Homo sapiens: one gene and its partner. The protein of the gene in region 2 purifies or fractionates together with the protein of the main gene of each other region. This does not show direct contact. Each region holds a gene or a part of one and is shown on either strand. Other genes may lie near its edges.

Evidence for each region.
Region 1: the proteins of LZTS3 (region 2) and SIPA1L3 purify together in Homo sapiens (affinity purification with mass spectrometry; one large-scale study listed by BioGRID and IntAct). This does not show direct contact.

What each region holds. Positions count from the first base shown.
Region 1 is NC_000019.10:38,204,035-38,206,678, reverse strand, and holds part of SIPA1L3 (signal-induced proliferation-associated 1-like protein 3), read right to left. Parts: intron 2,553-2,644; coding exon 2,471-2,552; intron 583-2,470; coding exon 439-582; 3' UTR 1-438. UniProt on the Homo sapiens protein: Plays a critical role in epithelial cell morphogenesis, polarity, adhesion and cytoskeletal organization in the lens.
Region 2 is NC_000020.11:3,166,874-3,170,686, forward strand, and holds part of LZTS3 (leucine zipper putative tumor suppressor 3), read right to left. Parts: exon of another isoform or gene 1,625-3,813; intron 1,432-1,624; exon of another isoform or gene 1,118-1,431; intron 1,089-1,117; 5' UTR 998-1,088; coding exon of another isoform or gene 926-997; 5' UTR 865-925; intron 309-864; coding exon of another isoform or gene 291-308; coding exon 1-290. UniProt on the Homo sapiens protein: May be involved in promoting the maturation of dendritic spines, probably via regulating SIPA1L1 levels at the postsynaptic density of synapses.

The DNA of each region.
Region 1 (2,644 bases), on a different chromosome or scaffold from region 2:
AGGGGCCTCGGCCCCACAAGCCGCAACTTTGTTGTGCGTGGTGCAGAAACCTGCTGTGTGACCTCCTGGAGCCGAGGCGTCTGGAGACTGGCTCCTCTCTCCGTCCCCATCAGCTTCGAAGGGCTGGTCCCAGGAAGAGGCTAGATGGGGACAGCGGGGCAGGCCCGGGAGCGGTGTAAGCACAGCCCAGCTCACCGGGACCACAGCTGGGCAGCTTGGAGGGAGGCCTGAGACCACTTCGCCCTCTGGGGCATGAGGGCTGTGCGCGCTGACCCTGACTCACAGCCCTAGTGAGGCCATCGGAGTTTCCGTGTCCATGGGGAGGGCCCTGGATGGGTCATCTTGGTCACACCGGCAGCTGGGAGCTGAGTGGAGGGAGAGAGGCAGCAGGGCCACGGCCTGAGGGGAAGGAGCGAAGGCGGGCGGCGGCCTCCCACCTCAGAGCTCCTTCTTCTCCCTGCAGAAGATCTCCGCAAACTTGCGCAGCTGCTCGCTGGCGGCCTGCGACTCCTCCTGCAGCCGCTGGTTGTTCTGCCGCAGGCTGGCCACCTCTGACTGGAGCACCACCTTGTCCTGCTTCTCCTGCACAGGGTGGGAAGCTGGCATCAGGCGGGTGGGCTTGGCCGCTCCTGGAACAGCCGATGGCTCCCTGAGGCCTGTGAGCCCTGGCCCGGCTGTGCTTTGGAGCCAACCACTAGAGCCAGGCCAGGCCGGGGCACACATCCCACTCTGCCTCTCCACAACCGAGGGACCCTGGGCAAGTCACTTGGTTCCCGCAACTCTACCAGGAGGCTGAGGGGTGTCTGGAGCTCATCTATGTAGAGCTCCCGGAACGCAACCACATGTGGAGTCATCGCTTGACAAACATCACTATTGTCACCGCATCCCACCTTCACACTACCCGAGGACTTGGGGACTGTCGCTGTCCCTAGTTTCCTGGAAGAGGACCCCAGCCTCACACAGCAAGTGGGGAGCTGGGACATGGATGCAGGGTGGCCTGAGCAGACCCCCTTCTTCCAGGAGGACGTAGCCCCCGAAAGGCAGGGACCTGTTTCAGGTTGCGCAGCATTATGCAGTGGGGCGGGGGTCAGAACCTGGGCCCCTTTGATTCCACGGCTCGAAGACTTACGCATTATATACTCTGCCACCTTTCTGGCTTTTACCCAGAAGTATAGAAACAATAGATAAAAGTCTCCTCCTCATTTTTTTTTTTTTTTTTTTGAGACTGGGTTTTGCTCTTGTCGCCCAAGCTGGAGTGCAGAGGCATGATCTCGGCTCACTGCAATCTCCGCCTCCTGGGTTCAAGCAATTCTCCTCCCCAGCTTCCCAAGTAGCTGGGATTACAGGCGTGCACCACCACACCCGGCTAATTTTGTATTTTAGTAGAGACGGGGTTTCACCATATTGGCCAGGCTGGTCTTGAACTCCTGACCTCACCCACCTCGGCCTCCCAAAGTGCTGGGATTACAGGTGTGAGCCAACGTACCCAGCCAGTCTCCTCCTCATCCTTCCGCCCCATGGAGACAAGTCCAAAGAACAAATTGACTGTCACCTTCTAGATGGCCCTCTCAACCATGGTGGTTAAACAATAAATAAATAAGTATGGTGATATTCTAGACAACACTGCTGCAGCTCGCTTTGGTTTTTATGTAAGTTACTGGACTTCTTTTGCGTGTTAGTAAATATATAGATTTGTTATTACTTTAATTGGCTGCAAGCTGTTCCGCTGCATGGACACCCTATAATTTACACAGCCATTCTCATGTTGAGTGACAGCCACGCTGGCTCCAATTTTTTATTGCCAATAGTGTGGCAACGAACGTCCTTGTTCACAATCTCTTTGTACCCATGCTGTCACGGATAAATTCCCACAAGTGGAATTACTGGATCAACATTTTTTTTTCTTTTTTTTTGAGATGGAGTCTCGCTCTGTTGCCCAGGCTGGAGCCCAGTGGCATGATCTCGGCTCACTGCAACCTCCACCTTCCTGGGTTCAAGCGATTCTCTTGCCTCAGCATCCTGAGTACCTGGGATTACAGGCACCCGCCACCACACCCGACTAATTATTGTACTTTTTAATAGAGATGGGGTTTCACCATGTTGACCAGGCTGGTCTCGAACTCCTGACCTCAGGTGACCCACCACCTTGGCCTCCCAAAGTGCTGGGATTACAGGTATGAGCCACCGCGCCCAGCCACAGTTTTTTTGTGTTTTTTTGATAAATGTTATCCAATTGCCTTCCGAAAAGCCTGGGCTGATTATTCTCCCCCCAAGAATGGATGAGTTTCTCTGAGCGCTTGGTAGCCTGGGGTGTTATCACTGTTTACTCTTCACCCATGACTACACTCAAACACAGGAGGTGTGGGGGTGGGGTGGGTCCTGCATGGCGGGGGCAGGTGCCTGATCCCTGCTGACTGCCCTGCCCAGTGTCTGGGAAGTGGGATGGAGAGGGCGTGGCCCCCGGCCTTACCTTCTGCAGGTCAGTGTGCAGCTGTTTCAGCATCACCTCCAGCTGGTACACCTTGCCTGTCAGATCCAGGGGTGGCTCCTCGCTGGAAAAACCAGGGACAAGGTCAGCCTGAGGCCCTAAAGCCCCTGGGGAAGGCTTCTGGCCCACATCTGAGGAGCCTGGGGGTACAGGCCC
Region 2 (3,813 bases):
AGGGAGTTGGCGAGACCCTTGTCCTCTGAGGGGTAGCGGCCCGGCCTCTCCCTGCTGGCCCCACTGCCACTGCCTCGGGGGCCAGGGAAACTGCCCTGGCTGCCCCCACCCCCTGTGCGGGTACCCACGCTCTTCATGGCAAACTCCTGGGCATGGGCCACCCCACTGCCCACGCTGCCCATGGCCAGGCGGGGGTCCGGGGGTCCAAGCTCGGAGGGCCGTGGGGCAAAGGCCAGGAGAGGATCCCGCCCTGGGTCAGCGCGCACAGGCAGCGTCTCCAGCTTCGCCATGACTAAGCCAGGGGGGCACTGTGGGCACAGGTGGGAAGGCAGAGATAGGTAAGACCCTACTCCTATTCCCACCACCCCAGCCAAGTCAACCCGGCACCGCTCTGCCCCTCAGTGTCCCCTTCCCTACAATGGGTACAAAAAGTTCCCAGGCATCCAAGGTGAAGGAATAAGGCTGGGATAAAAGAGAGAACTTGGGAATGGGGGCTGCCTGTTGCCCACCTGATAAAGCCCAACCCCCAGGGCTCCATGCACATAGCCCCCAGCGTTGCTCAGCTCAGCTCAGCTCAGCTCAGCTCAGCGTTCCATTCCTAAACTTCTGCCTTAGCCCCACCTCCGCCATGAGCTTCCCAGGCTCAGTGACCCTCTCAACTCTTTGCTGCAACCCCAGAATTTTGGGGTTCTTTATCTTGGGTCTGGGACCCTAATATCCCAACCTCATGGGCTGGGGAAATGGGGTTGGAAGGGGAGAGCAGTACCTGAATCCAACAGGGAACCAACCTCAGAAATTAGGGGAGGGAGAGAAATACACCCCTATCCAAAAATTGAGGGTGGGGGTCCTTCCCAGCCCCCTAACCTAAGTGTTGCAGTCAGGGCAGAAGTGGAAGCTCACTACCAGCGCAGGCTTCTCTCCTTGCCTTTCCAAGGGGTTGAGGGGCCGACGGGTCCTCAAGCCTGGGACCCTCCGAGGCCCGGTCTGCAGGGGCCATGTGCCTCACTCTCGCAGTCGGGGCTCGGCCCGAACCAGCTGCGCGACTTTGGAGGGGCCGACTGAGCCATCCCGGACTGCAGTTTTCTCCTCTGCGAAATGGGAGGAATGAAGGACCTACCTTGCGGGGCTGCCGCGTGCCAGGCGCCCCGAGGCGGCGAGCGCCTGAGGAAACGGGGGTCTGGGGGAGGGTGGGTAGGCGACGCACATCTGGGTCGCGGGTGGGCGCCGCCAAGGGCACAGCCTGTCCCTCCCGGATGGACGGGGGCCGCGGCTGCAGTAGGTGGCAGGCCTGCCCTCCCCAAGGTCTTCCCAGCTCGGCCGCACCGGGGCCCTGGGAAGACAGGGCCCCCTTCCCGGGATCAGTCCTCCGCAGAGGTCCCAGGGCTGGCTGAGGCCGGGGCAGGGGACGCAGTGGCGCCAGCTGCTGGCACTGACGGAGCCTCTCTCAGGGCCTGCGTTTCCCACAGGTGGGAGGGGGGAGGGGAGGGGAGGGGCCGCTGCAGGGTGCGCGGCCCCAAGGATCCTGCGCCTGCCGAACCCCGCAAAGAATTCACTGCCACCAGGAAGACTTCCCGGATTACTACCCTCTCCCGCTCCCTGTGGACCTTGACCCTGCTCAGCTTACCGTGAAGCCCTCTGAGTCCTTCTGTGGGTGCGCGTCCCCCTCCCCCAAGGCCGGCCCACAAGCGCAGGGGGAGCCAGGCCTCGGGTTACCTGTGCTCAGGGAGGCCGTGCTTCCTCGTTCCTTTGTCTCAAGTTCGCACCTGGGAACACCTGCCCCAGAGATCTGCATAATGCAGCCGGGCAGGAGCACCAGGCAGTGTCTGCCTCGGGTTAGACCCTCAAATAAGTGTGTGGGAAATGGGAGAGGGCGCCCTTCAGGCCTTTTCCCACTACACCCTGCATAAACCAGGCAGGGAGCCCTCCTTCCCTATCAAGTTAAGGGGCCCACGTGGCACCCTATGGCCCCACAGACCGTCTTCTACCCAGATGCCCAGTTCTAATGCTGAGTCCCTGGCCCAGACCAAGGGCACCTGACAAAACTGTTGTCCTTCGGGAGTCTTCTGGCCCCCACACCAGGAATGAGAGCTCTAGGTTGTTGGAAAGTTCACTACCAAGCCTGTCCACTGTCTCTGTAGAATTCCATTCTCAGCATCTGTCCCCACAGGTGTGGAGAAGAGCACTTCGCCACCCTCCTCCCTTGGACCCGTCTGTCCCCATAAGCAAGGGCCAGGACTAGGATGAGGACAGAGAGCCACGTAGGGCACAAATGAAGGGCACAAACAGCAAGTACACAGCCCTGAGGGTGACAGCCTCCTTCCCTTTGTGCCTTGGGTCCCTCTCTGGCCTCACTCTAGTCCCTGCTCTGCCTCTACTCCCCAGCATACTCCAGCCCCCTATGCCTCAGCCCTGCAACCCCCTCCTACCTTAAGTATGGACCCTTCTCTTGCCACCTCTGGGTGCAATGTGGGGAGCAGCTGGGGACTGGGAGGATGAAGCCTGAAAGGCCTGAGGCTTGGAACCAGTAGGAAGGCCTGGGCAGGGTTTGGGAAAGAACTGGCAAAATTTCATACAGATGAGGTCAGGTGGTGGGGACAAGGGATAATGCTGGACTGGGCACCAGCGTGCGTGTGACACTGTTAACATGATAGGGGGAGACTGCTTGGGGAAAATAGTTGCTTTGGGAAACACCAGAGGAAGATACCTCTCAAGCACTAAATGGAGGCCAAGCAAGGTGGCTCATGCCTGTAATCCCAGCACTTTGGGAGGTCAAGGTGGGCAGATTACTTGAGGCCAAGAGTTCAAGACCATCCTGGCCAAATTGGTGGAACCCCATCTCTACTAAAAATACAAAAATTAGCTGGGTGCGGTATGCATTCCTGTAATCCCAGCTACTTGGGAGGCTGAGGCACGAGAACCCCCTTGAACCCAGGAGGCAGAGGTTGCAGTGAGCTGTAATTGCACCACTGCACTCCAGCCTGGGTGACAGAGCGAGACTCTTTCCTTAAAAAAAAAAAAAAAAAAAAAAAAAGCACTAGATGGAGAGAGATTGAGATCATCAGTTTTCAAGGGTGCTGGGGGTGTAGGCCAGCACTGAGCCAGGGAGCAAAGCCCCAGAAGTCTGGAAGGCACTCTGGGAGCAGGAAGAAGGCCAGGAGAAGGTGGGCCCTGAAGGCCAAGATTGGGGGGATTCAAGAATGTGGGGACAGTTTCCAGTGTTAAAAATAACAGGGCCAGGTAACACTGGGGTTGGAGAGTGTGCTGCGGATTTAGGAGCTGGTCTCGAGACATCACCAATGTCTATGTCAGAATGGTTTCAGAAAAGTGGTACAAGTGCCGGATGCGGTGGCTCACACCTGTAATGCCAGCACTTTGGGAGGCCAAGGCAGGCAAATCACTTGAGGTCAGGAGTTCGAGACCAGCCTGGCCAACGTGGTGAAACCCCGTCTCTACTAAAAATACAAAAAATTAGCTGGGCGTGGTGGTGCGCGCCTGTAATCCCCTACTCAGGAGGCTGAGGTGGGAGAATCACTGGAACCCGGGAGGCAGAAGTTGCAGTAAGCCGAGATCATGCCACTGCACTCCAGCCTGGAAGACAGAGCGAGACTACATCAAAAAAAAAAAAAAAAAAAACAGGTTGGCGCGGTGGCTTACGCTTGTAATCCTAGCACTTAGGGAGGTCCAAGACAGGTGGATCCCCTAAGATCAGGAGTTCGAGACCAGCCTGACCAACAGGGCGAAACCCTGCCTCTACTAAAAATACAAAAAAATTAGCTGGGTGTGGTGGTGCATGCCTGTAATCCCAGCTACTCA